Homo sapiens: one gene and its partners. The protein of the gene in region 1 interacts with the protein of each later gene in a pairwise test. Each region holds a gene or a part of one and is shown on either strand. Other genes may lie near its edges.

Evidence for each region.
Region 2: the proteins of LRSAM1 (region 1) and ZMAT4 interact in binary tests that used the Homo sapiens proteins (3 or more experiments, as listed by UniProt).
Region 3: the proteins of LRSAM1 (region 1) and ATXN7 interact in a two-hybrid assay, tested with the Homo sapiens proteins (one study listed by BioGRID and IntAct).

Annotation. Positions count from the first base shown.
Region 1 is NC_000009.12:127,489,510-127,496,509, reverse strand, and holds part of LRSAM1 (E3 ubiquitin-protein ligase LRSAM1), read right to left. Parts: coding exon 6,992-7,000; intron 5,296-6,991; coding exon 5,215-5,295; intron 3,709-5,214; coding exon 3,613-3,708; intron 1,191-3,612; coding exon 1,092-1,190; intron 547-1,091; coding exon 415-546; intron 1-414.
Region 2 is NC_000008.11:40,691,059-40,699,695, reverse strand, and holds part of ZMAT4 (zinc finger matrin-type protein 4), read left to right. Parts: intron 1-2,294; coding exon 2,295-2,451; intron 2,452-8,637.
Region 3 is NC_000003.12:63,978,867-63,987,503, reverse strand, and holds part of ATXN7 (ataxin-7), read right to left. Parts: intron 7,590-8,637; coding exon 7,337-7,589; intron 5,319-7,336; coding exon 5,059-5,318; intron 4,566-5,058; coding exon 4,483-4,565; intron 1-4,482. UniProt on the Homo sapiens protein: Acts as a component of the SAGA (aka STAGA) transcription coactivator-HAT complex. Mediates the interaction of SAGA complex with the CRX and is involved in CRX-dependent gene activation.

The DNA of each region.
Region 1 (7,000 bases):
TGTTTTGAAGAATAAGTGGATTAATGTGCTGTAAAGAGCTCAGCTTGTGCCCAGAAAGGAACAGGGGCTCAGGCAGTGCTGTGGCCACGACAGTTTGTGACACCATGAGGCAGGGCAGAGGCTGGATCAGATAAGCCCCAAGGGCCTGTCTTGTCCCTCCAGTCTGAAGATCCAGTCTGATCAGGTCAGCAGGACCCACCTCCCCAGGATTTCCCAGTGAGACAGTGTGCAGGGCACACACAGGCGGCTGGGGCAGATGGGCAGGTGTTCTGGCCATCTGGAAGCAAGGTGGCCCTGGGCCATTAGGTAAGGACAGGCCTCAACGAGGACTACACAAGGAGCAGATCAACCCCCGGCTGGTCAGGACAGCGGCCTTGCGTGCCCCTCCCCTCCATGCAGACGGCTGCTGCCCACCTTGGCCAGGTCCCCTGGGCTCATTTGGCTCAGCAGGTCCAGTGAGAGGCGGTGGTGCGCAAAGATGGGCAGGTAGTGCTCAGCCGACAGCTCCTCCAGGAGGGCCACCAGCTGGCGCTCCATCCCCTCTTCCTGCAAGACAGAAACGTGTACCATGAGCAGGAAGGAAGAAAAGAACCCACTGTTTACAACAGGAAATGAAGGGTTTGAATATTTATAACATAATACATAGAATGTACTCGGGATTTTTCCTACAAAAACTCATAGGTAGGCACACAGAGATAGATAGATAGATAGGCCCAGGGGTTCACTGCCGCTCTGTCTGCAAACCTGAAAATAGTAAGCAACTTGAACATCCACCAAGAGGGGGCTGTTTCAACTGCCTCTCTGTCCCCGCAGGTGCTGGACAGACAGTGGCTCCCGGCACAGGCTTTGCTCTACTGTGGGCTCAGTGGTCTCTGCCCTGCACAGCAGTGACCAGTGCCTTGTCGTCCCCCTCACCAGAATGAACACTCCCTTACTCTCGCTTCTGTCTCCACTGGGGCTTGGCACAGGATCTGGCATGCTAGAGTCACCAGAAAAGTAACAAGAGGCAGAGCATGGTGGAGGCACCACAGGCGCCTCTGGGAGGAGGTCCCCAGGGCTCCCTGGCCGGGACAGGCACCAGCAGTCCTTACTTGCAGCTTCAAGGACAAGGGCTTCTGGTTCAAAAGCCGTTGATACTGAATCAGCCAGTAATTTTCCTGCCTGGTTTCACTTTTGGCTTCTAACTCCGTCTGCCAGGAATGAAGCAGGCAATGTTAGTCACAAAATGGTAATAAAACCTGTAATAACAATGATGGTTGCCAGGCGCGGTGGCTCATGCCTGTAATCCCAGCACTTTGGGGGGCCAAGGTGGGCAGATCACCTGAGGTCGGGAGTTCAAGACCAGCCTGACCAACATGGAGAAACCCCCCACCTCTACTAAAAATACAAAACTAGCCAGGCATGGCGGCACATGCCTGTAATCCCAGCTACTCGAGAGGCTGAGGCAGGAGAATCTCTTGAGCCCGGGAGGCAGAGGTTGCAGTGAGCTGAGATCGCGCCACTGCACTCCAGCCTGGGCAACAAGAGCGAAACTCCGTCTCAAAAAAACAAAACAAAACAAAACCAAAATGATGGTTATGAACCATGCTCCTCTGAGCGGGTGGACAGCACTTGGTACTTTTATTTTATTTTTGAGATGGACTCTTGCTCTGTCACCCAGGCTGGAGTGCCCGAGTAGCTGGGACTACAGGTGTGTGCCACCATGCCCGGCTAATTTTTATATTTTTAGTACAGATGGGGTTTTCACCACGTTGGCCAGGCTGGTCTCAAACTCCTGACCTCAAGTGATCTGCCCACCTCGGCCTCCCAAAGTGCTGGGATTACAGGCGTGAGCCACTGCACCCAGCCTGAATGTGATTCTTTTATTCTGCCATTCGATAACTCTTCGTTGAGTACTGTTCTAGGTGCTGGGAATACAGCAGTGAACAAACAATGCTGATAACAGCCACGGTGACAACAGGCGTAGCTGACATGTTCACAGTGCCATGTGCCAGACCATGCTGTGCACCTAACGATGCCATCATTAATTCTCACAACTCCGGGAAGGAGATTCTACCTCCCAGGTGAGGGAGCTGAGGTTCAGGGTGATGAGTAACCTGCCCAGGGTGGGGCCAGGAATTGGACCCAGGCCTGTCTTGCTCCAGAGCCCGTGCTCAGAACAACGGAGCTGTTCAGTGAGGGCTGGCATGACATGGGGAGTGGGATCAACACAGGCGTTTCTCAATCCCTGCTGGGCCTGACTGCCCTTTGCGGGCCCCTCCTGGACCTGGCCACGCCCACTGCTCCCTTCCGTCGTTGGCCCTCCCGGGCTGCAGCCCCTCTCTTCCAGCGCCCAGGAGCCGGATGGGCTGTGTTCTGCTGGGGCGGTGCTTCCTCCTTTGGTGGTGACCCCCAAGGCCTACAAGGGCAGGGGCACCAGCCATAGTACCTGGCTGCTAAGGCACAGCGCCAAGGCACCATCTGCAAAGTAACCTGATGCGTAGGAGATGGCAGTAGGGCACCGTGAGGAACAGGCAGCTTCCTCTGATGGGCACAGGCACCACTTGGCTTGTTCAGGGCTCCAGAAGCAGCTGGTCTCTCTCTTCTAAACCTGCACAGGACCCGGCCTAGGACGCAGCTCAGAGGGCATCTGGTGCATTCACGGGGACACAGGAACGACTCGGTCTTTTCCACCCCAGATGGTGAGCCTGGCCTCTGTCCTCATTGCTTGGGTGCCCTCTGGGTCTAGAGGAGACACTCTCAAGGGGGCCTCTGCCACGCTGAAAATGTGCCAGTGTCAAACCCATCAGGGGACAGGGACAGCTGGGCCACTCCTGCCAAAAGCTTATCAAACGGCCTGCCCTGGACATAGTGAGTCCTGTCTGGAGTGAATACTCATGGCTGTTCCCGAATACTCGACTACAAAGGCATTCGGAGAGCATTGCCTAGAAAAGTTTAAAAACCAGAAGTAATCCACATACTCAACAATAGGGGCCACGGACAGCCTTGAGAAAGGACGTCAAGGAATAGTTTAATGACTTGAAAAGAATGTGCGGAAACAGGCTGCTCGAAAAGGGTATGCAGCATGCCACGTTTAAAAGGCGCATACACGAACAGCTATAAAGGTGCATCACAATGTTTGGAAAATATGCATCAAAACCGCAGGAGAGGCTAGGCGCGGTGGCTCATGCCTGTAAAACCAGCACTTTCGGAGGCCAAGGCAGACAGATCGTTTGAGCCCGGGAGTTGGAGACCAGCCTGGGCAACATAGCGAAACCCCATCTCTACAAAAAATAAAAAAATTTGCCAGGCATGGTGGCACATGCCTGTAGTCCCAGCTACTCGGGAAGCTGAGGTGGGAGGATCGCTTGAGCCCAGGAAGTCAAGGCTGCAGTGAGCTGAGATTGCGCCACTGCACTCCAGCCTGGGCGACAGAGTGAGACCCTGTCTCAAACAAACAAATAAAAAATGGCAGGAGATAACGCTTGGAAATGCAATTATTTTCCTTTGTACTTTCCAGTTTTTCTTTGATGAATAACTCTTACTTGAATAACAGGTGTTTCTAAAAATGGCAAGTCTGTTAAAGAAAAGCAAATGCCTGTGTGATGCTGAGCACAGAAGCCAAACACATACCAGGATTTCCCGGAGCTCTTCCTCTCGCTGCTGCTTCTCTTTGAGCAGCTGCTGGAGCAGGGAGCTGAGGGCCCAGCGCTGCTCCGAGATCATCTCCTGCGAACAAGACCACACCCCGCACCACCGTGAGCTGGCGGCAGCGCAGGAGTCCCGCAGTGGCAGGATGGAGAAGGGCCTGGCCTCCCGCTCACTCGGTTCTCTGCCCAATGCCTCCAGGCTGCGTTGGGGGACAAAGCTAAGAGGCCCTTCTGCCCCCTTACCCTAAGCCCGCATCTCTCTTCCTTGTGGGGTTAAGTCAGGCATGGGATCCTGGTGACTGATGACAATGGGATGGTAAGAAACATCAAACAAAAGAAATGACAAGCCACAGGTGCCTGCCTTTGGTCTCCCAGACAACAGAGCACATGGGCAGAAGCAAATGGCGGGGAGCAGTGTGGGGCCCCACACAAATGGAGGTGCGTGCAAACCAGAGCCTGGGGTCCCTGCTTCACTCCTGCGCCTGCTCTTGGAAACCCCATGGGGGCCCCAACAGCCAGAGCCCTGCCACACTTGTGGGCAGGGACTAGGGCACCCGCCAGGCATGATGACCGCAGCTTCTCTGAGAGCAGTCCCAGTCCCCTCATCTCTGGAGATCATTTCAAGGCTCACAAAGGGCTTTCCCTTGCTAGCTCAGCCTTCTCCGATGGCCTGATGGCACAGGCTGGGCCTGGAGGACCGCTGCCATCTTATGGAGTAGGGGAAGAAGGCCTGGAGGGGCAGAGGCCTGTCTAAGGGCACACAGCACACCTGCGGTGCACCTGAGACCAGGGATCCAGATCCCAGACCCTTCACTGCACTGAGGAGTCCATGGGATGGCTTGAGACTTCTCCACTGAGAACAGACACAGGGACAGTGACAGACCGAAGGCTCTGCTCAAACTCCTGGCACAGGCACATGTCCTCACACACCATCCCATCCAGCCCTCCGTCTGCAGCTGGAGAGGCTGAGGTTCAGAGAGGGGAAAGGGCTGCCTCTCCTCCCCCACCTGCCAAAGTTGCACAGCAGGGCTGTGCTGGGCCACACCCGGCTCCCAGGCATCCAGTCCAGGACGCCAGCTGCCAGTCCCTGCTGCCCTCTCATCTGTGTGCGCAGGACTCCCGGGCTGGAGCCCCAGAGATGCTGCCTGCAGGGAGTTACACAGATGCGGCTGGGCCCTCTCCTCCAGACAACCCGGGACACCCAAAAGCTCCAGCCCTGGAGGATGTGTGCCTGGGGGCCTAAAGCACGGCCTACAGAGAGAGACAGGAGCTCAGCGGCGGGCCCGCACCCAGCACAGGAGACACAGTGATGGAGATGAGCAGGGGAGCCTTGGCAATGAAACCCTCCTTCCTCTGACCCTCCTGCCTCGCAACAGGCTGACCACCTCTAACCTTGGCCTGCGCTGGGCCTTCTGGGGCTGGGGGGTGTCCTCTGGTGTCACAGCCACAGAGGAGCTCTGCCCTCTGTCTGCTGGGGAAGCCCTTGACTCCCAGGGGCTGGTGAGCAGCTGCCAGAGGCTGGGAGGGAGCACCAGGTGGGGGTCTCACCACGTGAAGGAGGGCAGGGGCAGGGAGCCCTACATACCTGGAGTGACTCTGTGTCCAGGGACTTCCTCTTTAACTCCAGCTGTGTCAGCTGCAATAACTCAGTTTCTATTAACTTAATCTAAACAGAAGACGAGACAGGGTTTTTTTTTACTCACATTAACCACAGTTCAGTTTTGTGCTGCTACTCTCTGGTGACCAAGTGGGTCTAAGAAGCCTTTCTGGGGAGGCTGGGGAGGCTCTGGAATGAGGGGAACCTGCGGGCCTGGGAACCTCGTCAAGGGGCTTGAACAAGAATTCGTTCCTTCATGGCCTCGCGTTCCTGGGGCATGGACGTGCTTGTTGTGGCCAAAATTGTTTACCAAGAGGCCAGCACAGGATCTCTCCTAGAGTGGGATCAGGATAAAGGCTTGTGCAATGGAGAGGGGGCTTTCCTTGGGGATTCAGGCCAGAGTAAAGCACAGACAGAGCTATCACCCAGTCTCCTGCTGGTCAAGTTCTCTTGTCCCTCGCATCGCTGTTGCAGGGGAGAGCAGAGGGTAGTGGAAGTGACTGAGTAACAGTGGTAGTAGTAGCTGGTATGTCTTGAGCACCTACTATGTGCTAGGCCTGTGCTGCACACTTGATGTATCATATTTCATCAATTCTCTGGCTGCTAGGAGGTATTATTGCCTCCATTTTATAGACAAGAAAACTGAGGCTCAGAGAGGTTCTCACTTGCTCAAGGACACAGAGCAGGTAAGGGAGAGATCCCTTTCTCTGGGATGCCTCAGCTCAGGGTTTAAGGGCAATAGCTGACCTGGTCAAAACCATCTGCAGTGAGAATGTGGGGGGCCCTCACAGGCTCTCCAGGGTGTGTCTAGGGGATTTTAGCCCTGGGCAGGGGTGGGGGTCAGACCCCATAGCCAGTACTTCTCTATCCTGTGCCCATGACCCTGTGACCCTCATCCCTAAGTCCCTATGACACCACCAACCCCTGGTCAGAGGAATGAGCTTCATGTCCGGCAATGTGGAATTGAAATTAAAGAGGGAAATTAAAAAGGTAAATTGGTCCAAAAAAAGAAAGAAAGAAAGAAAGAAAGAAAGAAAAATAGAGAAAGAAAAAAACCATGCAAAAATGCAAAATTCAGTGTGCTGAACATGATGCAGGAGTACTCCCATAGCCTGACGCTCACTTCAGCCCCAGCCCCAGCCCCACTCCACAGGCGGTGACCACCAAGCCGTGTAGGTGGGCTTGCCCAAGGCTTGAAGGTCAGCAGCCGGCCTGCGGGGGGTGGGGGGTATCTTGTCACATGAGGGAGGGTCTAAGAGGAGGACCGCCTCCTCCTGGGCCGAGGTCACTTTTCAGCAGGCGTCAGGACCACCGTGGCTCACAGCTCCCCCTGCCCTCTTCTGGGGGAAATACTATATGCCCCTGAGACGCCTCTGTCTGTCTGAGCTGTAGGAGCGCTGGGGCCTGCGCCGGCTGCTTTTCCCAGTGGGGAAGTCCTGCCTGGAGCAGGGACAGCAGAGGCAGCTGGAGCAGTCAAAGCCACACATCAGCACCAGCCTCCCTGGCCCAGGCGTGGTGGAGACCCGCCTCGCTGGCAAGACCCTCGCCAGACCCCGGAATAGGAGGTCTCTAGACACCCTCCCAGCAGCCCCGACACAAGGCTGGGAGCAAAGGGAGGTTCTGAGGGCAAGGCCTCGACCTCTTGTTGGGCTAGCAAGCCAAGGAGCTGGGGTTCAAACCTCAACTGCTGCGACCTGCCGCCCTGGAGGGCCACTCTGCAAGTCTCTGAGAGAGCAGGTCCAGGGACCCCAGCCCCAGCGCTCACCTGGCTCCT
Region 2 (8,637 bases), on another chromosome or scaffold:
CCCTGATAATCTTCCTTTTTAAAAAAGGGTAAGACTTGATTTCATTCTTTTTTATGGCTGAGTAGTATTCCATGGTGTGTGTGTGTGTGTGTGTGTGTGCATTTACATTTTCTTTATCCAATCGTCTATTGATGGACACTTATGTTGATTCAATATATTTGCTATTGTGAATAGTGCTGCAATAAACATAAGAGTGAAGTTATCTTTTTAACACAATGATTTTTTTTTCCTTTGGGTAGATACCCATTAGTGGGATTTCTGGATCACATGATAGTTCTATTTTTAGTTCTTTGTTACGCTAATAGCCCAGACTTCACCGTTCTGCAATATATCTGTGTCACAAAACTGCACTTGTATCCCTCAAATGTACACAAATTTTAAAAAGTGAGACAAATATATATCCTCCAGCATGTAGTAAAGAGGCACCAAGTTTGGTCTCTCATTCCTCTTGCATAATCTACTCCTCATTTAATGGGCTGGAACCCTTCAGGAACTCCCTGATTTGCCTCTTCCTGGTGATCCTGGTATATGCCATCTCCCTGGCTTCCATCCTGTCTCCTAGGCTTGACTGAGGAGGTAGGTAGCTCAGGGGAGCCAGGAAGCCAACCCTGCCCCTTACCTCCAGGTCCATTTCATTTCCATAGTATTCCACACAGAACTAAAAGTATTCGTACTATTTTGTTTTTTTCTCTATGGAGAAAACTGAAAGCACTTTGGCTTTAAACCCTCAGCGAGAGTATTGCCAATGAGCACAGCCTCAGGGCTACTAGATTTCCTAGCAGGAGAGGACCTATTGGGAAAGCCCCTCCTCTCTCCAGTGGTCCCTTCCACTCACTGACAACCTCCATCCCAGCCCCAATGTTTGAAGTCTCTCCCTGAACTTCAGGCAAGCCTCCTGCTCCTGGGACACACACACAACCCCTTCCTTCCAAGGATGAAATGCTAATTATCAGAGATATTACAGACTAATGTCTTAAGGAGGAAGGAATTCATTTCCTAACTACCACATAATTTGCAAGGCAACACTCTCTCTAGCAGTCTGGACATCTTATTACTATGCAGATAAAATATGTAATTCCCTTCCTCCAACCAGTTGCCACCCTCATCCTCCTCACCATCCAATTTTAAATTGTACTGTCTGGGCTCACTAGGAATAAGAGAAGCGGCCATTGTGGGGCCATATACTCATTCCAGCTTGCTCTTTAACAAAGAGATGTTCGGCTATTGCTGCACCATTAAGGAATAGATTAACTTCTTATTTAAAAGTCTGTTCTGCCCTCCATTTCTAACTAAGCAGGAGGGGAAGCAATGGATTACTCCTTCCCTTCATAAGTATAGGTAATTGATGACCTGCGAGCACAATAGCAGGTCACATGGTCTGACCAAGGTTTTATTTTTTTCTGAATTATGATTCATTTTCATTAAGTATTACAAAGGAATAAAAATCCAGCTGGATTTAAGCATTTTGTGCAGCATTTAATGAATCACCTTTCCTGAAAAAAAGGAAAATTACACAAACTCTCCCAGAAAATCCAGCCAGCACAGTCATCATAGCTTTATGATACAGAATCGAGTTAATTATGAAAAACACTCAATTCCTTAAAGAAATCTCTAAAAATCTTGAACATCATGGCCATGTATCCTGGTGAGGCTAAAATTGGTCAAAAGCAGAGCGGAATAACAAATGATAATTTCTGCTAAATAATTCAGGCTATCTGAACTCTGATATTTTACAGACTTTAATGAGTATAATGGGTCCAATTAGAGACTGCTTTCCTTCACCATGCCAGGCTCAATGTGCCCTCTCTTAATTGTGGGCCCCGTTTTTATTTGGATAACTCATCTCTACAAATTTGTCCTGAAATCCCAGTATCTGGCATTAATAGCTACTAACTGTATGTCAAAGTCAGTCACTGAGTAAGTTTTGATGATGATTATCATGAAGAAAAAGAGATTGCACCGGGGCCGGTCAGGGGGTGGGGGGGCTAGGGGAGGGATAGCATTAGGAGAAATACCTAATGTAGATGACAGGTTGGTGGGTGCAGCAAACCACCATGGCACATGTATACCTATGTAACAAACCTGCACTTTCTGCACATGTATCCCAGAACTTAAAGTATAATAAAAAAATTTTTTAAAAAAGAAGAGAGTAGAAAGCAAGGCAAAAAGAGAGAGAGACAGCTTGCAGAACAAAAACTAGATATTTCAATACACTAGTTCGTCTGGGTAAGTCTCATTTGTAAAAGAATGGAATGGGTTTCTCTCACACGTGGCCTTTCTTTCTCCCTGCGCAGGGAAGTGATGCCGACATGGTGGATAAGAACAAGTGCTGCACACTCTGCAACATGTCATTCACTTCAGCGGTGGTGGCCGATTCCCATTATCAAGGCAAAATCCACGCCAAGAGGTTAAAACTCTTGCTAGGAGAGAAGACCCCATTAAAGACCACAGGTACGTGCAGGAACAGTGATCGTGGGGAGACCCTGAAAACCAAGTGCTGGCCTGTCTTGCAGATCATGCTCCTCCTTCAGACGCAGTTGCCAGAACCAGAGCCTAATGGTAGACGTCATTCAAAGCCTAAAGGGATGAGTGGCTGACCTCAGCAGACCTGGCTGTCCTAAGACCCCTAAATACCATTTCAGGTGCTCATTCTATCACCCTAGTTCCTTTCGATGAAGTAATGCAGCAGCTTGCATCTGCTGAAGAGCTGTGTGCATTGTCTATCATTCCTACTGTGTATTATATAAGATGTGATATCTATTCTGTTTTCTAGATTCCGTCTGCAATTAGTGTGGATCATGCATGCTGTGTCATGTGTAATAGAGAGGTCCCCTACCAATGTCTATAATGCAGGACATCATCCTTTTTTTTACCTTGGCAGGGGAGAGTGGGAGGAAAAGAAAGGAAAACTATAATCTTTAAAAGTACTTTAGTGTGCCAAGAACTGATTTATTTATTTTTTTTTCTGAGATGACATTCTCATCATCTTTGCAGGGGATCCTGTGATTCATCTTGCAGGAGATCCTGTGATTCAAGCCTATTAACTTTCACAAGTAAAACCTTAAATATTGATAACCGATGATTTGACCTTCTAATTGCTTAACTAAAATAAATTCTTCAGAGGTCTATCACATCATGAAACTAAAACACTGTTATAATTTAATCAAGATAAACTATTTGGACAAGATTTATGTTGTGGCAGAAATGTGACCAAACAGGTTAGAATCCAGAGAAGTTGGGGGCGTATTTCATGGTGCCTACTCTTTCCATGCGATTAAAATTTAGCAGTACATTTTATCTGCTGTCTAATGAATCATGCATAAACTGTAGGTGTAATTATTTTGTAAATGGCATTTTGCAAACTGGAGAGAGCCTAAAACAATGCTTGGCTTTTATCCTTACCACTGTTTTTCTTAAGAAAAAATGTATTCTTTTACCTAGAGAATCACAAGGAATCATTTTACTGTATTTTTCTATTTAGTTTAACTAAACAACATTGTTTTTGTAAAGGTGGCTGTGACATTCAGGCATAGGATGAGGTTGCAAAACACATGAAATCTGGAGACAAGCTCAGTATGTTTGGGGGCACAGGTTGTGTTTCAGCCTTTGACAAGCAGCCAGTCAATTGAAACTCCTGATTCTTGCTCCCTTAAATGTTGCATATTCACCTTGTAACCTACTCCCCATCAAATCTCTTAAAATAGACACCTCAAAAAAACAGTCACTGGAAAATTTTTACCTGTTTTCCATGAATTAATAACCAGTCCATTTGTTCTCTCTGCTGAAGCAGAATATTACTGTTAAATTAAATTTTGGAGGTAATGATGGAAGAGGAGAAGGTGTGTGTTTGCTTATCACATCAATTAGCAAATGGGAGAGTTATTCTTTCTGCAAAAAAAAAAAAAAAAAAAAAAAAAAAAAAAAAAATTGCCACATGGCAAAACCAGTTCTTTGTGAATTTAAATACAGCTTCAAGACAACCAAGCATCCAATTGTTTTCCTGAATTCAAACACCCTCAGATCTGGGAAATAGAACTCGAGTGTAATTTGTTAGCCATCATCAATACATTCCAAAGGAAAAGGAAAAAGCGAAGTACAGCCTTTACTTAATGGCTTAGTCTTGGCTGTTCATGGGACTAGCTCAGCCCTCCCTGTTGCAGAAACCAGGTTGCTGGATAGGCAAGAAGGGAACGAATAGGGTGTGGTGCACCGAAAGCTATGGCTCAGGTTGGGCCTGCCTTGCGCCAGCTCCCCCTTCACACCCAGCTTATACCCCCTTCTGCAGCTTGCCCTCCCATCCATTCCCCTCTGTCACTGCTTTGAGCAGAAAGGATCTTGGAAAGTGGCAGCACCAGACAGATCAGAGGGCCTAGGAAGCTAAACTGGCTCCTGGCTTGGGTTGGTGTCAACCCAGCTGTTGGCAGGGAGCAGAGAAAGCAAGGCCTCCTACTAGAGGGAGCAAGTAGTCAGACATGAGGCAGTTTGGTCAATAGGAGAAAAGACATGCAAATGTATGCAATGTGTGTACACGAGCGCCTTCAGAATGAAGACCCAAATGCAGTAGAAATTGGCCATTTTTATGGTTACTTCAACAAAGTAAGGGCAGCCTTGTAGAAATATGATTGCACAAAAAGGGAACGATCTAATGCTGTTGGACAGAGTGGGGACACCTAGCAAAGCCTGTCTGTCTAGATTCTTCTTGGCCTCTCTGAGCAGCACTCCTTCCTTCTGGGTGTGGGGCAGGACCCTCTCTGGAAAGGGGGTCTCATGTCCTACTCTCCAGCAAGGTCAAACAGATAATTTCTTTATGGTCAGTTTTTACACAGAAAGGTGAGGGGAGTGAGGGGAAGTTAGATCAATAGTTTTTAGGTTTTATGGCTGGCTTTGGGGAAAAGGCGGTTCTGGTTTCTAAGATCTGCCTTGGAGAAGCAGGTTTCCAGGCTATCCTTGGGGGAGAATGGGACTGGGAGACAGGAGGGTAGGAGAATGTCAGAGAAAAACTTCACTTCTGAGGCTGCTGCTCAGGTCTTCATTTTGAGATATTGTTTTGAGTCCCAACAGCAGAAGTAGGCATTGTGGGGGTGTCCCAGGTTAAGGGTTGAAGGCCTGATAGGAGGATGGCACCAGCATCGGAGGCTCTGGGCCCAGGGAGCATGCAAATGAACCAGCAGTGTGCCGGTGTTGGGAAAGCCTGGCAGATGGTAGCAAGGCCTGCTGCAGTCCTGGGTTCTAGGAAAGGATAGGCTGAGAAGACCATGGCAGGACACCACCATTTAATACAAGCATGCTGGGCTGGAGACCACGCGTAGAAAACAAAACAGGAACCTGAATTCTAGCCTTAGAGTATAAGGTGGAGGCTTGTTCTCAAGTTACTGCAAGTACAGGAGAAAGACCAGGAGGCACTGGAAAAGAAAACCCACACTATGGCCTCCTGAATTATCAAGTACAGCTCCCTGAATGGAGTCCGGATGGCCATCCTCCCTTACTGCCTGCAGCCACACCCAGCAGCAGCTTCTCCAGGGCTTCACCTTCCACGTGGTGGCTGCCTTGTGCTCCTCTAGGAACCGCTCTGCCTAATTAACCAAGCTGGCTTGAAATTGCTTCTATAATAAAAACAAAAGGAAAAAAAAAGGAACACAGAAAATCCAGTCAACTGAATCAAGATGTAAGAGAAACAATTTTGCTCAGGTATGCTGCCCCCACCCCCGTGAATAACAGGCTCTTGAACTGGGGTGATTTCTGTGTTGGAATAATTGAACCACAACTCATTGCTTCTGCCAGCTACTTCGTCTGATGAGGGTGAGCAGTTGGGATCTGTGAATCACTACCTTTCCACCCCCTCCAGCTGCCCTTTGATCAAGCATCTTCTGGGTCTCCTGCAGAATGAGTTGCAACTTGAGTCGCCTTCTCCAGATGGGTGCATGTTTACTAGAATTTCTGAAATGCTTGGCAGAGCCGCTGGAATAACACTCATTCATTTACATATTGTCTGTGGCTGCTTTTATGCTGCAATGGCAGAAGTGAGTTGTTATAACAGGGATGATCCAGGTCACAAAGCCTAAAATATTTGCTATGTGGTTCTTTACATACAAAGTTTGACTCTTGATCTAGAGACTGGATGATCTTGAGGAACATGCATCAAGGAGGCAAAGGGTTTTTTATACAGAAACTCACAACGGGTGCTAGGGTGAGTGTCTGTATAAAATGGAAGCAGTCTTCCCAGGCTGTGCACCAGTCAGGAGCTGGGGAGGTGCCTGGGATAGAGATTGATGAAAAGGATGTGACTGAGAGCAGGCTCATACCTGTAATTCCAACACTCTGGGAGGCTGAGGCTGGAGGATTGCTTGAGCCCAGGAATTTGATACCAGCCTGGGCAATGTAGTGAGACCCTTTCCCTACAAAAAAATAAAAATTAGCCAGGCATGATGGCACATGCCTATAGTCCAAGCTCCTTGGGAGGCTGAGGTGGGAGGATTGATTTAGCCTGGGAGGTTGATGCTGCAGTGAGCTGAGGTTGCACCACTGCACTCCAGCCTGGGTGACAGAGTGAAACCCTGTCTTAGGGAAAACAAGAAAAAAGACCCCAGTCATTGGGTTTAGGGCACACTTTAATCCAATATGATCTCATTTTAGCTTAACTAGTTACAGTTGCAAAAAACCTATTTCCAAAAACATTGACATTCTGAGCTTCTAGGGGGACATAAATTTGAGGGGACACTAACCCGGTATATGAGCAAACTCCAGTTAACTGCTGGCAGCTGGCAAAGATCATAGGCCCTGATTCTGTGCCTGCCCCCAACCTCTTTTTTTTTATGATAAATCCATATCAGCAAGATCTCATTCAAAATCCTGAAGAAAACATCATTTAACTCTTCTCTTTAGAAACTTACTTTTGGAGAAAATATGAATGAGAGGAAATCTGATGTATGGAAGAAAATCCTTAAACTATAGTTATTCTCCATTTTCCACCATTCATCAAAGTGATTTTTAAGATTATGCATAATTGGAATGGTTAGGTTCTATCCAGCATTAATAAGAACATTCATCTGTGTCTGTAGCAGAGACTTTGCTTATCAGACACCCATTTGCTTTTTATCTGCCCCAGACTTGCAATTGATTGTGTGTTAAGACCTGGCTACAAGATGGAAGAGAGCCATTCAACTGCGTTAGACTTTGCACGAACAAGAAATAAGCCTTTATTGTGATACTTTGCGGTTGTATGGTATTACAGGAGAGTCTAATCTATCCTGGTGGCTACATTATCCCTTAAAGTTATTGTTTCAGTTATAAGCTTTTATGAACACATCTATCATTCACAGTAAAAATGGATATGAGTGCAATCTTTCATATAATTCCCAGACATCATTAGTTTGACAGGTAATGACATCAAATTTAGCAATAACCTTTCTTTCATTTTTGACCCTTCAGAGTTTGAAGTGGCCCTAGGGTTATGTGTGTCTTCAGTAACAAGGCTGGATGGATAGAGAACCATTCTGAGGTGTGCTCTGCAGGGACCACAGTTATTACTGCCTCTGTTCATGACTGTACCTCTGGGCACATAGTAGGTATTTAATTAATACTTGTTCGATGTGTAAAAATTGGAAGCATACATTAGAATAATAATAGGCAGTTAAGTGTCTATAGTTTTATTTTCAAATTTAGTTACCTTGGTTATTTAAATTTTAGTCAAGTATGATGGTAAAAAACAGTGGTTTTCCAATTTAACAGGAATGTATCATCCCTGTCCACTTGCTTGATCTTACAAAACTCCTTTCTTTGTAAAATAGGTGATATACCAAATACCAGAGGCCACAAACAGAGGCTGTGAAGTCAGACCCAGTTTTAAATTCTGCTTATATCCATGGGAACATTCACAGGTGGTTTTAACTGTTCAGCCCTCAATTTGTTAAAGGTAAAGTGACGGAAACACATTACAGAATTACTATAGTAAGGCAGAAGATATAAGTAAAATACTTACTATAGTGTCTGCCACACAATTCAGTGTGGAATGGATATATTATTGTATGTAAATACATACAAGTGTAAGCATACACACAACTGATCCTCATTGTTTGAGGATTCTGTATTTATGAATCCACTGTGATTTATTTGTAACTCCAAATTAATTCTCCTGGCACTTTTGGGGTTATTCCCAGACATGTGTGGAATTGTGAAAAATGTGAGTCATGCCAAGTGCACATTCCCAGCTGAGGTTGAACACGGTGACATTCTGCCTTCTTGTTTCAGCTCTCATTCTGTAAACAAGTCTCTCTCTCTTTTTTTTTTTTTTTGCAGTCTATTTAGTGTCACGTGTTTTGCACATTTTGTGTCTTTTGTTGGTGACTTTGCCATTTAAAATGGCCCCCAAGAGCAGTGCTGAAGTGCTATCTAATATTCCTAAGTACAATAAGGCTGTGATGAACCTTACTGAGAAAATAAGCTTTGCTCAGACATGAGTTACAGTGCCATTGGTGGTGAGTTTAAAGTTAATGAATCAAACATTTATATTAAATCAGACACATTTAAGCAGAAACACACATACATCAAGGTTGTATATTGATTGATCAAAACCTTGTAACCACAAGTTCCTAGGAACCTAACCCTGAATTTCTCCTAGGAGCAAAGTGATTTACTGGT
Region 3 (8,637 bases), on another chromosome or scaffold:
AGACAGACTGCCACAGCCAAGGAGCACTGGACAGAAGATGAGGCTGAGAAGAAATGCTATGAACAGGAAGGGAGACAAAGTAATCCCTATAGATAGACACTGGCTATGGAAATTAAGGAAATGGGATGGACAACACCCCTGGGTCTTCAGACAATGTCTAATTTCAGAATTAAGAAATGGATACACAGAGGAAAAAGAAAAGTCAAATTATGGCAGTGTTTGTCTTAAGGCAACCAATACACACACCTGTGGTTGAAGCAAATCGTATAAGAAAATGTGTCTGTAGTCCAAACGCATTTCATAGTTACTGGCATTAAAACAAAACAAAACAAATAAGCCTAATACTATTGCTAACAGAAGATAAAGTTGAATGTACAAGTGTGAACTGGTCAGAGTTGGGCAAATCTTATTGGCAGTTGAGTCCAATCACTCAAGTTAAACCTGACCATTCCATACTGCTGAGATCTCAGTCTGTAAAAATGCAAGGAGATGCTAATCCTGAGGAGTGGATGAGTTTACATGAGCTACAGTGGCCCCTAATCACATATCCATAAACATAAATGAATTCACCCACGTTTCCTTCTTTTATATTACAAAATATTGTAAATGTGTGTGTGCATGCCCCTACACATAATACAAATGTATTGGCATAGTTGGTACAACTTTAGGGACTTAAAAAGGGAATTATGCTTCTAACTACCATTTTCGGTTGAATAACACAACCCACCTCCTTACGAGACACACTGCAAACTATGTCTACCTAAATAATCTAACCTGGCACAGACAAATGTGTTTAGCTTTTTACATTTTTACTTGATTTTCTTTAATATGGAAAATATCCCTAAGAAAGTAACCTAAAGACCAGGAACTTTGTTTTGTTTGTGTTGTACCAGCATCTAGAAGAGTACCTGACGCTCAAATGCTTCAAACAAAAAGTTTATAAAAATAATGGCCCTCCAACGTGTGTTGAAAGAACGAATGAACATATAATATTACTGGTCCACCTGCCTGTCTCTCCAAGCAGATGTATAAACCTCTCCTCAGCTTGAATGTTCCCGGTGCCTAGCACAGTACAGCCAAATGAAGAAAGCAGGCAGATACATTTTCCCAGCTCAGTTTGAAGCCTAAGTAGGGTTTCCACTGAGCTGTGAAGAACATTCCAAACAGAAATCCGATAGGGGTTGCCCAAGGCTCACAGGATAAAGACTGACTGCATAACTAGGCTCCGGAACCCTGCACACTCTAAGACCCTTGCTTACTGCTCCCTGCTCCTTTGGTCCCGCGTACCTCTTCTTCCCTCTTTCTGTTCAGCCACCTGGCTGGCTTTAAGGTTCTAAGGAATTTGCTCTGCCCCTGTCACAGAGCCTTCACACATATTGTTTCCTCCACCTCTCCTACCTCTCCCATCCCTCTCAAGCCCAGATAAATCATCACATTGATTTCAGCCCAATGTTCCTATGGCAAGAAAGCCTTCCCTGGAAAAACTTCATTTTTGCAGGCTTTCATAATGTAGTCCTCTCATCTTTTTATAACTCATCAGTGGTAATTTTACAGTTATTTTGGTGATTAATACTCTCCATCTCTTTCATTAGACTGTAAGCACCACAAGCATAGGGAACACGTGGTTATTGTGCTAAACCCTTTATTCCCTGCGACCTAGAAAGAGTGAGGCCTGTGCTCACAGATGTACGTAATAAAAAGTTCTACAATGAGTGAATGGACAAAGGCTACAGGAGTCACAAATCTCTCCGCGTGGAAGGCACAGAGGACTTTCGACGGGATATTAGACAGATGAAGAAGTGAGGAGGGGCAGTGAGGATGGGAGACAGACAACAGAGAATGAGTAATGGGAATGAACAGCAGCAAATCCCCTGACGGTGAAGAGAACAGATAACGTTCTAAGTCTAAGACAGAAGAGACCTGGCAGCAACTTGGGAAACACTCAGGGTAGGGACATGCAGGCATGTTTAGCCCTACCAAGCTTAATAGATTCAGACCAACGTGAAGGCAAGGAAAAGGAAAAGAACTGACAAAACAATGAAAAAAAGTCAAGTCATCCTGTAAAAGGGCAGGCCTGGTGGATGCTGCATTTTCTGCCAGTTCTATGCTGATCTCATGACAAGCTGGGTCTCAAGACTTATTAATGCAATGACAGGCTTAGCCCAATGCCACGGAGAGTAATGACACCCTTAAAGAAGGACGACAAGGGGAGCATATATCATTTGAAAAGGAAGATGTGAGAAAAATGCAGACCCATTCAAAGTCACTCCACCTAGCAATAAAGGCACAGGAAGAATGCCAGTCAAGCTCCTTGAAGATTTTGAGTTGAAAAAAAACTTTTGGCAACCTCACTTCTGGGTAGTTATCCAAAATAACTGAAATCAGAATCTCAAAGAGCTATTAGAACTCCTATGTTCACTGAAGTATTATTTATAATAGACAAGATGTAGAAACAATATAAATGTCTGTCAACAGGTGACTGGATGAAGACAACATAGTATATACATACACTGGAATACTATTCAGCCCTTAAAAAGAAGGAAATTCTGCAATATGCTACAACAAGTATGAGGTAAGCTTGAAGACATTATACTAAGATAAATAACCCAGTCACATAATGACTAAACACCGCATGATTCCACTTATATGAGATCTATAATCAAACTCACAGAATCAACAACTAGAGTGGTGGCTGCCAGCGGCTGAAGGGAGAGCGAAATAAGGAGTTACTAATCAATGAGCATAAAGTTTCAGTTATAGCAAGATGAACAAGTTCTAGACATCTGCTGTATAATATTCTTTCACAGTCAACAATACTGTCTTGCACACTTAAAGGTGTGGTTCCCTGCCACGCTTTGTAAATGACTGAAAAAGAACATCTTGGGTTTGAAAAAAGCAAACCTCATTGCCCACAGGTACTGTATTACTGAGAAATCCATGTTACTGAGAGTCAGGTAGGCAGGAAGAGCGCAGAAGGAGAATGGCAAGTTGTGATCATGATGTGGACAGGGCTGAGGCATGCTTTCACACATTCTCTTAGGGACAGCTGAAACTGACATAATTCTACAGAACTCAGGTGGCTATCTTCATACACCACCACCACTACACCACTGTGTGTCCAATTAGTACCCTATACAAAAAAAAAGCAGTTTGTTTTATGAGAGTTTTTAACCTAGAAATCCAAGGATGGGCTTGGGGTGGGGGTGTCCATTAATCCAAGATAGAAAAATTCAGAATGTGTATGTGTATGCACTATTTTATTCTCGGAAGATGGACCGTGGTTTTTTTTTTTTAAAAATGAGATATTTAAAGGTACTCTTGACCAACCCTTTTCCCCAAAAAGGTTCTGAACCACTGTTGTAAGACAAAATCTATATACTAAAATTAAATTAGAAGCTTAAAGTAAGAACCACTTAAAAATTTCCCACTCCAGAAGACTGTAACATGCCTCCACTGGCTGGGGCATGGGACAGGGCCTGAAGTCCTTTATTCAAATACACTTTAATAAAATTTAAAGTAAAACACTAACAATTTTATTAATTTTTAGAAGAAAATGCTAACTTTTATCATTTTTACTTCCTCCCTCTAAGGTTTTAAAATTACATACTTCAAAGCAGTGACTCTGAATGCTTCTTGAACCTATCTGGGGGGTAGCTGGGGACACCCTCCAGAGAAATGCACATCAACATACAAGCTCATTTATGTAGAGGTGTTCACTGATGACCTGAAGCCACCCCACATCAATAACCCACACTTTTCAGCAAATATACCTTATTAGCATACTGGCATTTTAAAAGAAGGAAGACCCCAGAGCAAAAAGGAAGACCATTACATTTTCTTAGCTTGTATATAAATTATTAATATATTTTATCTAGTTTTTTTTTTCTCTTAAAAGAGATGGGTCTCGTAATGTTCTCCAGGCTGGACTCAAACTCCTAGGCTCAAGCAATCCTTCTGCCTCAGCCTCCCCACTAGCTGGGACTTACAGGCATGCCTGGCTTGCAGTATTTTTTTTTTAAACTAGAAAACAGGGATATTTCAAAATCACAGATTTTTTAAAAAGTGGTTCTTTAAAATTTAAGACCATGGGTGACACATTTTTTAAATGTTCATACACACGCAAGGGAAATTTCTGCACTTGCTTTAAGCCAGTATAATTTAAAGCACAGTCAAGGGTAGCCTATATGGAAATATTAAAAGTTTTTAAAAATAACAGACTGGGAGAGAACACTATTCCTGTGGATACAACACTGCTCATTAGAAACAAAACCTCTGTCAAGATTATAATTTATAACAACGCACTTCACATTTTGTCAATCTGAGGCTTTCTTCAACAGAACCAAGTTATTCCTTCACCTACACAATTCACAACAATCCACAGAGCATCTTCTCTGGGTTAGAGAGACTGTGGGAGTAGTGTGGTACATCCCAGTCACCCATGTTTATCAGGATGGTCGACTTGACTTTCAGGAGTCCACCTACCTTGCATGTCAAAGACCGGGTGCAGGGCTTCTTGGTGTCGAGATCAATAACCCCACAGTGGATGTCAGGATCAAACTCTCTTTCTGTCAAAAGAACACAGGCATTACATGTGGCCTGACAAACTCTCCTCCATGTATTTTTTAAGCAAGAAAATAGAAGAAATCAACAGTTAGATAAATTATAGCTGGAATAAAAGCCACATTATCAATAAAATAAAAAATATACAACGTGTGAGTGCTGCAACAAAGCAGCAACATCACTAAGACAGGGGGTGACTACTGCCATCAGATGGTAGAAAAGATATTGTTTAAGTCTGTATTACTTCCTTCAGAAATACACCACTAGAAAGCTACTTTTACATGACACACACACACACACACACACACACACACACACACTCATGCTCTTTAAAACCCAAGAGTGAAAAGAACAAACATATTAACTAAGGAACTTCCTCCTAAAGCTGAAGTTGACCAGTTTTAAAAATAGGAATTCTAGATTGCAGTTGATTTGCTCCCCACGAATGCCCATTTAATATATAGAGAAGCATTATGAAGAAAGAAAATTTGAAGTTACCTGATAATCTCTTATTTAAAAATTTCCTATTATTGGAATTGTCTTCAGGTTTCTTTTCCAGAGTGGGCGGTGCAGGAAGCCCTTTGCCATTCAGAATCTGTCCAGGTGAAGGCAAGGTTGGCTTTGGTATTGAGGGGCAGTTAAGGCCAGGCTTGACTAAGGAACTCACAGTAGCAGGACAGGTTGGCCCCACCGCAGATTTCAGTAGTGTGCCATCCATTTTCGGATGAATCTTTTCCACTTTCACAGAGGGTGTCATGCTGTCACAGGAGGAAGTGAGAAAACCAGTGCCTGAGTGCCTCAGCAGCCCCCAGGTGAATGGTGAGCCAGAGGGATGAGGATAGAGCCTGGGCCTACCCAAGCGCTGCACAGGGCCAGCCTCTTGGAAGGCTCCTTATGAGTTTTGTTAGTAAGGTTCATACTGATTAAGTCTATAAGCCCTTCTGGTGAGGCAAAACCCTCAGTGGACCATCAAATTTGCCTGGTCTTTCATCATTTCAAAAAATTTTACACATGAGGCAATGGGAAACTCAGACCTGATACCCAATGCAATGCAATTTCTATAAGAAGCAAAACATGAGAAGGTCTAAAAGAAACAAAGACTATTTGCAGAACCCTTGGAGAATATCTTTTGAGGACTGCCATTTGTACGAAAGGATTCATCAAAACAAAGTAAACTTCTGAGTGAGCAAATATTTCCAATAAATGTCACTAAAGACTTATGAGAACTCAAACATGCTAAATAACATATCTCCAAGAAGAGGTTCTTTGCTTCTGTCAATAAGGGAGACTAGTGTTTAATAAATATATGTTGTGTCACTAAAGTGGTAATTCTCCAGTCCTTGAAAAATGTTTCTATGACAGGAGCTTAGGGAATACCTGTGCCATTAACAAAGATATGAATCTTGGAATCTTACTGACACTATCATTTTGCTTGGTAAAACTGAAAATACTGGTAGGAAGCTAACAACTGGCCTGGTTCCTATCTAAAGGCCTAGCTCTAAGTAAAGAAGATTTGAATCAATGAGGTTGTATAAACTTTGTTCAGTGGAGTCAGTGCTCTAACAGCTGTTAAGCTGGCCAGTGACTTACACACTACACTGGCACCGTTTGTGGCTTTCAGACTGCTCCCGGAACAAAAACCAAGCTTGCTGTACTGTACTTCTGACAGAAGAACAGGGGCTGGGGGCTTAGCAACCAGGACAAACAGCCCCAAACAACTGTACCTGGAATAGCCTGACAGCAGTAGAGAGACTGCAAGATGTCACATCCTCTCCCAGCTGGCAAGGTCCTTATGCAGCAGCAGGTGCTGGACCCTACCCTGAGATTAACCAGGTTACCGGATCTTGGACCTACGATGTGTGCTATACCCTCCAAAAGCAGGCTGGCCCAAGAAAAGCCATCCGTCACCAGGCTGAGGGATGCCATGACAAGGCGAAGCATGTTCCTATTGGAGTGCGTGGCTGCTCCCTCACGTGACCTCAAGAAACCTGTCAATCTACTGAGTGACCATGGAAACTTGCCAAAGCCATGCCTGGCAGGTGTGAACTTCCTTCAGTCTTCCCTCATCACTGCTGTGATGTGAACCTAAGGCTGAAGGGAGGAAGCACTGCTTCCCTATTTGCTCCGTAGACCCCCAAAAATTCTACAGCAGCATCTGGGAATCTCTGCATCTTTTTATCATTACTATTATCCACAGCAGCAGTAGCAGGAGTGCCAGTATCCATTTGTTAACCGTCCCCTATGGCCAGACACTATGCCAGGTGCTAGACATATATTAACTAAAATATTCTCAATAACCCAGCATAGTGGCTGTTATTCTTAGACAGAAACAGTGCCTTGCCCAAACCCCTACAGCTAAGAAGTGACAGAAATGGGACACAAATCCAGGCCTATGTGACTTGAGGCCTTTTTGGACAAAACTCCCCCACCTCACGAAGCTTCCTTCTCCTCATCTGGAAAACGAGGATAGTAACAGTACCTATTCCATAGGGTTGTTGTGATAAGTGACATAGTACACACATAGAGTTAGGTTTCAGTAGCTAGCACACAAGAATGGATCAATAAATGTTAGTAACCTTATTATCACTGCTATTACTACTCTGAAAAGTTTCCTATGACATGACAGGGAAACATCAAGAAACAATACAACATACATTTGAATTCTTCCCCAAGTAGACTCTCTTTTATATTACTCACAGGCACTCTCACATGCCACTAGTGTACACAGTTTCATTTCCAGCAGGTAAGCTTTAAAAACCCTCTTGGCCATACTCACATTCTACCATGGGGAACTCTACTTTGCTGAATGGGATGCATTGGCCTGGTGTTCCCCCTGAGCTGCAGTTTCTCTTTGGGTGATTTCAACAACTTGGAACTTGATGAGGATGCGCTAAGAACACCTCCACTGGAAGAACGGTTGCTTCCACTTGCACTGCCTCCTTTGCTTTTGGACAGAGAAGGGAAGAAGGAAAATACTGAAGTGGGAGGAACGGCCAAAGGCGGCTTGCTGGATGAGCTATGTCTTCTTTCTGAAAACGAAAGCAAAGAAAAAAAGACATCATGTTTTAGGCGAATCTCAAATGTAATTCTGGAAGAATTCCCTGAAATCAATATATTCAGGTTAAAACACGTGTCGTTAAGTGAAGGTATGTTAAACTCAGCAGACTTCAGAAATGGCTCATCTAGGCCCCACAGACTTACTTAGCATTCTAGGAACGGGTCCTTCTCTTTCTGAAGTATCTCAGCATAAAGAGTTTTATCACATACACCCATCAGGAAATTAGACAACCATCGTAAACATGAGAATATTGCCTTTTGGGTTTTGCGTGCTAAAAATGAACCTCATTGGCTCCAACTTGCATTAAGAGAGAGGAAAATTATTCATTCATCTGCAGAGCTCTGCTAAATGACACTGCAAGCAATTCTTTCTTCCTTTCTAACACCGCACCTCTCTGATTTTCAAAATAGCAAAATCTTAAGAAACAAGTTGTACCTTCTTTTTTTTCCCTGTCACTACCCACCAGCAGATGACACCAAATAAGAATGTTTCTAGGGTTATCTTATCGTTCCCTAAGAATCTGTGCTGAAATTTTCCAGTGAATCATTTCACTTCCCACCCCCCCTTTTTTAATAATCTCACTTGACTACAGATGGCATAGCTCCGGTTCACACCGCTAAGATGCCAAAGGCGCAAGACAAAAATACCACAAATAGCTACGCCTGTTTTTTAAACCAGGAAGTAATTCATGGTTAAGTACAGACTACAAAGGTTTAGCTGAAAATAAATCTATCCACTGGAGAATCAGGTTTTCTTAGAGTAAGGTAATCCATACTAATATAAATCAAGAGCTGTTGAAGAATGTTACCATCAGAAACAAGTAAATCATTTGGTAACTTTATCCGCTTGAGTACCTTAGTGGCTGCCTTTAATTAATTAATTTAAAATTACACATTTGCTTAACTCTAAGTTTTAAAATGCATGTGATCCAACACTGCCTTATCACAATACAGGAGCTATATAAGTATTTAAAACATTAAGCACATGATGATCAATGACCACAAGTAAGACTTCAATGG